Linked DNA regions of Homo sapiens: region 2 is linked to region 1. Evidence: fine-mapped expression QTL. A gene starts in region 1. The other region holds a variant in brackets. All regions are shown on one strand. Distances are from middle to middle.

Region 1 (5,376 bases):
AAAATTCTAAAAAAATGTAATCCATGATACATAGAACATAATCCAACAATACATGAAACAAATAATAAAACTGACAAAGCAGGCTTTATTGAAGAAATACTAAGTTGGTTTAACGTTTGAAAATCAAGTAACAAACTACAAAAAGAAAATAGGAAAAAGGTATGATTATATCAGTAGCTGCAGAAAAGCATTTGACAAAAATCCAACATCCCTTCCTGATAAAAACTCTCAGTAGACTACAAATAGAAATTTCCTTAATCTGATAGAAAATTTATGAAAAACTTATAGCTAATATCATACTTAATGGTAAAAGGCTGAATACTTTTCCTCTAAGATCAGGAACAAGACAAGGATGTTCACTCTCAACATTTCTATTCAACACTGCGCAGGCTCTAACCAGTGCAATAAGGCAAGAAAAAGAAATCAAAGACATCTGTATTAAAAAGAAAGAGTAAAACTCTTTCTACACAGATGACATGATTTTTCTATGTAGAAAATCTGATAAAATCCATAAAATGTTACTAGAACTAAGAAATGAGTTTAGAAAGATTACAGAATACAAGATCAATATACAAAATCTACATACTAGCAATCAGAAATTGAAATTGATAAAACAATACCACAGCATCAAAAATATGAAATGCTTTAGGATGAATCTATCAAAAGATGTGCAAAACCTATACAGTGAAAACTACAAAACACTACTAGTAGGTGTTAAGGAAGACCTAAATAAATAGATAGGCATATCTTTATTCATGGGTCAAAAGATTCAATATTGTTATGATATTAATTTCCCCCAAACTTATGGATAGAATCAATGCAATCCCAATCAAAACTTAAGTAAGATCATGTGTAGAAATTGACAGACTGAATCTAAAATTTATGTTGAAATACAAAAGACCTAAAATAGCCCAAACAACCTTAAAAAAGAACAGAGGTACAGTACCAATGCTAGCTGGTTGCAAGTCCAGTCATCAGGATATTGTAATATTGATGTAAAAATAGACAAATTAATTAATGGGACAAAATAGGAAGTCCAGAAATAGACACAACACATTGATAGGAAACTGATTTTTGACAGATTCAAAAACAGTTCAGTGGAGAAAGAGTAGTCTTTTAAAAATTGGTGCTAGGAGCCAGGCCTGGTGGCTCACGCCTGTAATCCCAGCACTTTGGGAGGCCGAGGCAGGCAGATTACCTGAGATCAGGAGTTCAAGACCAGACTGGCCAACATGGTGAAACCCCGTCTCTACTAAAAATACAAAAATTAGCCAGACGTGGTGGCACACGCCTGTAATCCCAGCTACTCAGGAGGCTGAGGCAGAAGAATTGCTTGAGCCTGGAAGATGGAAGTTGCAGTGAGCCAAGATCGTGCCACTGCACTCCAGCCTGGCCGACAGAGACTCTGTCTCAATCAATCAATCAATCAATCAATAAAAATGGTGCTGGAACAACTGGATATAGATATGCAAAAAACAAAACAGATAAACAAAACAAAACAAAAATTTTGGCCATATATAAAAATTCTAAATCGGTCAGAGACCTAAATGTAAAACCTAGAACTATAAAAATTTTAGAACAAAACATAGGAGAGAATCTTTGTGATCTTGGATTAGGCAAAGATTTCTTAAATATGATACCAAAAAAAGAACAATCCATTAACAAATTGATAAATTGGGCTTCATCAAAATTAAAAACTGCTCTTCCCAAGACAATATTAGGAGACAGAAAAGACAAACAAGAGACTGGGAAAAAAAATCTTTGTAAAGCATATGTTTGATAAAAGATTTGCATCCAAAATATATAAAGTGTTCTAAGCTCAATAATGAAACAACTCAACATTAAATGGGCAAAAGATCTGAACGGACACTTCACCAAGGAAAATACACTCGCTGCAAATACGCACATGAAAAGATGCTTAACATCATTAACGATTAGAGAATGCATAATAAAGCCACAATGAGCTACCACTACACAGAACCGGAACATCTACAGTTAAAATCTCTGGACTTTCAAGTGTTGGCAAGGATGAAGAACAACTGGAACTCGCATAGACTGCTAGTGGGAAGGTAAAGAAAAAAACCACTTGGGAAAACAGTATAGTAGTTTCTTAAATGGTTACACCTACCTTACGACCTGGGCATTCCACTTCCAGGTATTTACCCCAGAGAGGAAAAACCGTATATGTCTGTACAAAGATTTGCACAGGGATGTTCCTAGCAGCTGTAGTTCTAATCAGGAAAAATTGAAAGCAGGCTAAATCAAGTGCTGACTAAACACACGGTGGTATATCCATAAATGGAATACTGCTCAGGAAGCAATGAATGATTGTTCCATGCAAAAACACGCAGGCATGTCAAAGTAACTATGTTGAGTGAAAGAAGCCAGACAAAATCAAGTACATATGGGATGATTCCATTTATGGACGACTCTAGAAAATGCAAACTAAAACAGATCAGTGTTTGGGCTGCGGATGAGTGGAGTTGGGATAGGTGGAGGGGGGCAGGGCGAGGGAGGAGCAGGAGTGGGAGGAGCTGGGAGATGCAGAGATGGGTTGGGGAGGGTCTCATGGAAGGGAAGGGAGAGAGGAAGGGGGAGAGGAAGGGGGAGGAAAGGCAAGGGGAAAAGGAGAGGAAGAGGGAGGGGGAGAGAGAGGCAGAGTGGGAGGAAAGAGGGGCGGGGACCTGGGAGGGCCCAGGGCACATAGTGGGAGGAGCAGGTGGGAAGGAGGGAAGGAGGGAGGGGCAGGGGAGGGAGAAGAGGGGGAGGGAGACGAGGGGACTGGCGGTGTGGGCGGAGCGTGGGGAGGGAGGCCGACTAGCGCAGGCGGACGGGAGAGAATGGGGGAGGGGTGGGATGGGAGCAGGGGCAGAGACGGGCAGAGGGCAGAGGGCGGAGCGGCGCCGGAGCGGGCGTCATGGCGCGGCTCCTCTGGTTGCTCCGGGGCCTGACCCTCGGAACTGCGCCTCGGCGGGCGGTGCGGGGCCAAGCGGGCGGCGGCGGGCCCGGCACCGGGCCGGGACTGGGGGAGGCAGGTAGGACGCGGGTCCCGCAGGCCCCGCCGCCGCCTACGGCTTTCGGCTTCATTTCACCGGCTGCACCCGGGAGCCTAGGGCCGGTCCAGGCCGGGCGCTGCCCTCCTACTAAGCCCTCCTCGGCGCGCCCCTCCCCCCCCCCAGCCCGAGGATCTGGGACAGTGGATTGTAAACTTGGTGGCGGCAGGGTGGGGACTGACCCCTGTGAGAATCCGAGGAAATGAACAAATGATCCCCCTAAATGTGCGCATAATTTTTTTTTTCTTGGCTCGGGGAGTGGGGGCATAAGTGGGGCTCGGGGGCCTCTGACCCCTATCGGGGACTCCAGGCGAAGGCCCGGGGCCTGGGCTGTAGCAGCCCGGCCCGCGCGCCCCTGCGAAGGCCCCTAGTATTTTGCATTGCAGCCCTCTTCGTAGTTCCGCGGGCTTCCTTCCAGCATCTGAGAAGCAGGCAGTTCAGACTTGGGGTTCCTGTGAGTGTTTCCTGCCCTGCTGACTTCCCATAAATGTGTCTAAGAGCCAGGGAGACTGGGTTGATCATTTGTTCCTTCTTTAAGGTGACAGCCATTGTTAATGACTGAGACAGAGACCAGGGCGAGCCTGTGTGTGTGTGTCTCTCTCTCTCTCTGTGTGTGTGTGTGTGTGTGTTTCTGCTAAATACTTTTGGATCCTCTCTTGGATCTGGGTACCTGCACATTTCACCAAGCAGGAAGGAGTCACCTCGGGAGACCTGTGCCAGCTACCCCTGTATTTCAGTTCTATTTCAGGGTAACTTAGTGCCCCAGGGGATTGGCTTCCTGGGCGGTTGCCAGACTGACCCACTCTGAATCCAATTTTATATGTGTTCATTGAAGACATTCAGAGATACCCAACTGATGAAAATGTACCAACTCATTCTGAGCTCTTTTTAGCCCCTGAAGTTTTCGAAATGCAATATTGAAAGAATACGTAACTAAATAAAAGCGTTGGCGTTGTGGAATGTTAGCTCATCCAACTTGACTTCCAGCTATGGCCTTTCTAATCACTGGTGTCTCTAGTCAGTCTGATGACATTTGCTGTGAGCCTACTGTGTGCCAAGCATTGTATTGCTGAGAACCACAGGTGATAGAAACAGGTCACAGTTACCGACGAGCTCTCTATAACCCCTTGAAAAAGGATGGTGGTTTTAGCGGTAACTACTTCATGGCTGTAATTGCTGCTGTCAGAAGCAGCCTAATGAATTGCCCTGGGATCTGAAGTTCTCCAGCAACAATAAAATTTGGCCAGCCACCAGTAGGTAACAGGAGCTGTGTACCTTATCAGACACCCCTCCTGGGAATCTATTCGAAGGAAATAGTTCAAAAGAAGAACAAAGAGATATATGCAAAGATGCTTTAAGCACTAGTCTCTTACAAAATGGAAACTGGCTGTAACCCAAATCAGTTAAGAAATACTTACGTAAATCATGAAAATTCAATCCAACAAACTGTTAGGCAGCCATTAAAAATGATAAACGGAGTATTTCTGTGGTGAAGGGCTTGGGTATGAATAGATGCAGATTTTGAGTCTTGGCTCTCGGTTACTTCCTGGCTCTGTGTCTGAGCTCAGGCTGCTATTGCAAAACACCGTGGACTGGGTGGCTTCAACAACATTTTCTCACAGTTCTGGAGGCTGGGAAGTCCAAGATCAAGGTGGGAACAGATTTGGTTCCTGATGCAGACCTGCTTCCTGGCTTGCAGTTGACTGCCTTCTCACTCTGCCTTCAGGTGACTGTCTCAGGAAGGACCACTAATCCCTCAAGAGAGCCTCACCTTTATGATCTAATCTAAAACTAATAACCTCCCAAGCCCCACCTCCACATTCCATCTCATTGGGAGTTAGGGCTTTAGCATATGGGAGTGGGGAGAGGAGCAGGGAGAACATATAATATTCAGTTTGTAACAATGTCTTTGGACATGTTTCTTGAATTTGGAAAGTTTAAACTTCAGATTTTTTTTCCTTCTGTCAAATAAGGATAATGATAATGGTAGGGTTGTTGTAAAGAATAACTTTTTAATTAAATATTTTGTTACAATGCTTGACACTTAGGCACACAATAAATGTTAGTTATGATTACATAAATAAGTGGAAAGGACAAAAATGTAGCTACATTTAACTTACATCATGGGCTTCGGGAGTGTTGAGAGAGAGGGAGACATTGGGAGGGGGGAAATGAGAAGATATTGAAATGACAGTATTTTTTTCCAGTGCTGCAATTTCTCATATGCTTAGAGTGATTTTTTTTAATCCAGATTGACAAAGAGCAAACTGAAAAAGGAAAGTAAGAAATATTCTGGAGCAAAAAATCTGTTGCTTCAGGAAAA
Region 2 (5,376 bases), 24 kb before region 1:
CATGCCACCAATTCCCACAGGATCCATAACGATAACCTTTTTTACAGAGCGGAAGGTGTCTTTAGTTAGGCTAAGTGGAGACTGAAACAAGGACCTGGCCTAATAATGCACCAAAACTGTAGAAACCTTCTCTGATCCCTTACTTTCCAAAACATTTTTTATAAGAAGGTAGGTGGAATAAAAAGCAAGTTCAGCACGGAGCCAGTGCACTTCACAACAATGCTTAATTTGTCTAGAGCCCCCAGTAAGATGCACCAACTCAAAAGCAGGGTGAGACAGATGGCGGAGTCTATAGCAATGCAGAGATGATCCTGGGAAAAGCCATGGGCAGAAGAGATGTCGATCCAGCAATAGTGGAGGCTTGACAAGGCCCTGGCACTTGCACCTGCTGATTTTTATTTAAGGACACTCAAGAGGCCAGGTGGCTCATGCCTGTAATCCAAAAGCTGTGGTAGGCTGAGGCCAGAGGATTGCTTGAGCCCAGGAGTTCAAGAGCAGCCTGGGCAACATAGTCAGATCCCATTTCTACAAAAAAAAAAATAAAGAAAGAAAGAAAATTAGCCAGGCATGCTGGTGCATACCTGTAGTCTCAGCTACTCAGGAGTCTGAGGTGGAAGGATCACTTGAGCCCAGGAGTTTGAGGCTGCAGTGAGCCATGATTGCACCACTGTGTCCCAGTCTGGGTGACAGAGCAAGAACTTGTCTCTAAAAAAAATTAAAATGCTCAGGAATAAATTTCTCTATTCTACGCATGACACACATTCCTCTGAAAAACCGCACTGTGACAGGCCACACAGCTACCTACTCAGGATGCCCCAGAAAAAGTCCCAGCCACAGATTCTGTCTCCCTTAATGACTAGAGACCTCATTCTCTTTAAATGGCAGATTGTCCCAACCGCAAATCTCTTCTGCACAGTCAGCCTGGGATGCAAACAGATTGCTTTAACGTGTAACTTTGAAAGTCAGGTTGTCATAACCTAGAACTCTGGGAAGCCTCATCATGAAATCATAAAAGCTTGTGTTTGGCTAAAGCAATGTGTTCATGTATCAGTAATTCATGCAATCCTGTACAAATGCAATTTTAACAGATGTTAGCACATACCTGAACTGGTGGAACATTTCCATTAATAACTGTCTGCTTGTTCCGGGAGGCTGGGGAGCCTTATCCTCATCTGCCGGCTTAAGTTCAGGTTAGGCTGGGGATAGAATTTCCATGTAGACATTTTTAAAGTAACAGTAGTAGACGCTTGAAAGTTTCTAGCAAATGGCAGGACATAAATATGCGACCAGCGTGACTGTTTTTGCACAGGTTCACCCACGCAGTAATTACTCCTCAGTCTTATTTGATACATGCTAATTCCTATCTTGTTCTAATTGATTTGTTTTCAGGTCCCTGGGTCTCATAGTGACAACAGTGAAACAAAGAAGAATGATGGCATTTCCCAAAAAGGAACAACAGTTCCCACATGTGTCCAAGAGGAAGAACTGGCCATGGTTGGGGCAGGGTAGTAGTGGGTTAGGTGGTAGCAGTGTCTCCATGTATAGGGAGAAGCCCAGGGCAGGTAGGCTTTGGCTGCCATCCTCTGGCACCGAAGTTCTCCTTAGCAATTGCCCATCTCATTAAGACAGAAACGCATGAGAAAGGGAGAAGACTGTCCTGGTCAGGCTGGGTGCACACACACTCTTCTGGCTATTGCTGGAGTTAAGGCCCAGAAAGATCTTTTTTTTTGAGATGGAGTCTCGCTCTGTCACCCAGGCTAGAGTGCAATGGCACAATCTCGGCTCACTGCAACCTCTGCCTCCTGGGTTCAAGTGATTAGAAAGATCTATTCAGAGTGCTGATGGGCCAGGTGCGGTGGCTCATGCCTGTAATCCTAGCACTTTGGGAGGCTGAGGCGAGCGGATCACTTGAGGTCAGGAATTCCAAACCAGCCTGGCCAATGTGGCGAAAACCTGCCCCTACTAAAAATACAAAAAAATGCCAGGCGTGGTGAGGCATGCCTGTAATCCCAGCTACTAGGAAGGCTGAGGCAGGAGAATGGCTTGAACCCAGGAGGCAGAGGTTGCAGTGAGCCGAGACTGTACCACTGCACTCCAGCCTGGGTGGCAGAACAAGACTCCATCAAAAAAAAAAAAAAAAAAAAAAGTGCTGATGGCAGCACTTATCTTTTAATTGCACATTCCGATGGAACGTTCTTGTCACAATTTTATAGAAACCATTGTAAAATGCAGATGTGGACATGCACTTAAAACAGGGGTCACAGAGGCTGTTAAAGGACACAGAAAAACAGAGGGGAGACAGAGATTGGGTGACTCAAGTGCTAATATTCTTCTGTCTGGAGTAACAAGGTTGTTGCAGTTCAAGAAATAATGTGTTCTATAGTATCTGGTTATCTGTCTCCGATGTGCCCTTTGTCATGGTTGGGTACTCAGCCATGGGCTGTGCCCATGTTCAGGTGGCTCCTCAGAAGATTGGCTACTAACTACCCAATTTGCTGACACCATTATCTAATTGTAAGCAGTCAAGTAATTACTGACGCCATTAACTAAGGCTTAGGAGTGGTGTTCCCAAACCACAAGCCACTTTAAAAGAGAAGTGGTC[C/T]TCAGTGTCCCAGCTATTAACTATGACCCTGTATTTGCTAACCTGGCTAGACTGCAGTACAGGAAGCTGAAATGTGCTCTCTGTACTCATAGCATGATTCAATTCAAGGCACCTGTTCTCACACTAGACTGACGGAGCAGCAGTTCTCACACTTCAGCGGGCATCAGAATCAGCTGGACGCTGATGATTCCTGGGCCCCATTTTCAGAAATAGCCATTCTATTAGGCCTGGGATGAGGCCTCAGAATTTGCACTGTTAACAAGCTCCAGGTGAGCCTGCTTCTCTGGTCTGGGGCCACGCTTTGAGAACCACTTGCCTAGAATCTGAAAAAAATCTCCCACTTAGGCTAGCCTGAGTCTTTTTCTTTTTTTTTTTACATAGAGACAGGGTCTCGCTCTGTTGCCCAGGCTGGAGTGCAATGGTGTAATCATAGCTCACTGCAGCCTCAATCTCATGAGCTCAAGCAATTCCCCCACCTCAGCCTCCAAAGCAGCTGGGACTACAGGTGTATACCACCACATCTGGCTAATTTTTGTATTTTTTGGAGAGATGGGGTTTTGCCATGTTGCCCAGGCTGGTCTCGAACTCCTGAGCTCAAGTGATCCTCCTGTCTCAGCCTCCCAAAGTGCTGGGATTACAGGCATGAGCCACTGCACCTGGCTAGTTTCACTCTTTCTTTCCCAATGTCTGTGTAGCAAGAAATAGGACAGATGCTACTCAGTCCTGAAAAGTAAACTATCACCTTGGCTTACAACTGAAAGAGATGTGCAGTTTTGTGAATTTCTGAATCAAAGTCTCTTTATTAATAACCCACGCAATTCCCATTTTAGCCTTCTTTTTTTTTTTTTTGAGACGGAGTCTCGCTCTGTCGCCCAGGCCGGACTGCGGACTGCAGTGGCGCAATCTCGGCTCACTGCAAGCTCCGCTTCCCGGGTTCACGCCATTCTCCTGCCTCAGCCTCCCCAGTAGCTGGGACTACAGGCGCCCGCCACCGCGCCCGGCTAATTTTTTTTTGTATTTTTAGTAGAGACGGGGTTTCACCTTGTTAGCCAGGATGGTCTCGATCTCCTGACCTCATGATCCACCCGCCTCGGCCTCCCAAAGTGCTGGGATTACAGGCGTGAGCCACCGCGCCCGGCCTAGCCTTCTTAATGCCCTGGAGAGATTAGCACTAGAAACAAGAACACAAAATTGCAAAATGAATAACCTTCCGGTGCCCTGGAGAGATTAGCACTAGAAACAAGAACACAAAATTGCAAAATGAATAACCTTCCGGTGACAGCTGTGACCACACTGAGGGCATTGGAGCCAAATAAAAGTATACTCAACTGCTTGTTTATCTCATTTTGGACTCTGCATATATTCAGTCAGTCGAAGCTCTGAGATGCCTGAGACAAGGAATGAAAAGTAAGGAATTAATATCTCAATGCAACAATTCAAAACTGAGAAAAGAAGGTCGGGCACAGTGGCTCAGGCCTGTAATCCCAGCACTTTGGGAGGCTGAGGTGAGGGGATAACTTGAGGCCAGGAGTTCAAGACCAGCCTGGCCAACATGGCGAAACCCCGTCTCTACTAAAAGTACAAAAATTAACTGGGCGTGTTGGCGGGCACCTATAATTCCAGCTACTTGGGAGGCTGAGGCAGGAGAATCACTTGAACCCAGGAGGTGGAGGTTGCAGTGAGCCGAGATTGTACCATTGCACTCCAGCCTGGGCAACAAAAGCGAAACTCCATCTCAAAAAACAAAAACAAACAAAAAAATACTTGCTGATGCAGAGTGAACTCTCCACTGGACCTTCCTCTTTCAGAACGCTCCAGAACAAAAGTTGGCAGCAGGCCCTGTGTGCTTGTATTCCCCAAACTCCAGAGAATTCATGTCAAGTATTCTAAAAAATTCTCCCACCACTCTTTAGTCTGGCTTGTTAAGCCTCTGGCCAGGGGATCAGAGGCAAGTCTCCCTTCTTGCAGGCACTCCAATTTCCATAAATTCTATGTTGGAGAAAAGGAGAGAACTTAAAGAAAATAATAAGGAAGGCAGGGTTTCCCAGAACACTTTTTACCTGATCAGGAAGTGGAATAGAATAAAAGTCCTCAGGAAAAGAACTAGGATATCATTTCCCTTCTCTAAAGGATATTTTGTGGCTCATGGCTGTAATTCCAGCAATCTGGCAGGCTGAGGCAGAGGATCGCATGAGCCCAGGAGTTCAAAACCAGCCTGGGCAACACAGCAATACCCATTTCTACAAAAAAAAAAAAAAAAAGCCAGACATGGTGGCATGCATCTGTGGTCCCAGCTACTCAGGAGGCTGAGGCGGGAGGATCACTTAAGCCCAGGAGCTGAAGGCTGCAGTGTGCTATGATGGCACCACTGCACTCCAGCCGGGGTGACAAAGAGAGACCATGTCTCAAAATAAATGAAAAAATGAATGTTTGTGCCTCAAAATTCTTAGAATATTGACTCAAATTAGGATGAGATTCTGATTTCCTTCTTAGTGGAGCTCCCAGAAAGATTAGCTCCTAAAAATTTACTCTGAAGAGGAAAAAGAAACACATTGGTGTAAGTGACCTTCCAGACGCCTATTGTTCATCATGGTGTGAGTGCTGTGATATTCTCTTTCACTGTTTGGGAGCCACACTATCCCTTAGCCTTGCAAAAGGGAGCTCCTTCTGCGTTCTGTCTTACAACACAGGAAGATAGCACCTCATGGACCAAAGAGAGTCTTCAGCTGCCTTGACTTGTCAGGCATTCCTGTGTTAGGATTGACAGAGCATTC

Evidence for each region.
Region 2: its variant is fine-mapped to the expression of MSRB2 in whole blood (TOPMed, PIP 0.99).

What each region holds. Positions count from the first base shown.
Region 1 is chr10:23,092,692-23,098,067 of GRCh38, forward strand. It overlaps MSRB2 (methionine sulfoxide reductase B2), which reads left to right and starts at 2,888. Exons shown (of 5, transcript NM_012228.4): 1 at 2,888-3,035. The coding sequence starts at 2,918. LOC107984215 (a long non-coding RNA gene) reads right to left here and starts at 2,588. Exons shown (of 3, transcript XR_001747394.2): 1 at 2,129-2,588. RefSeq lists a silencer at 2,696-3,165.
Region 2 is chr10:23,068,373-23,073,748 of GRCh38, forward strand. It overlaps LOC107984215 (a long non-coding RNA gene), which reads right to left. Exons shown (of 3, transcript XR_001747394.2): 2 at 1,103-1,196. Among named protein-coding and RNA genes, the nearest start is that of MSRB2, 25 kb to the right of the region's middle. RefSeq lists enhancers at 1-82, 2,328-2,437. The variant C/T (reference allele first, on the strand shown) is at 2,603.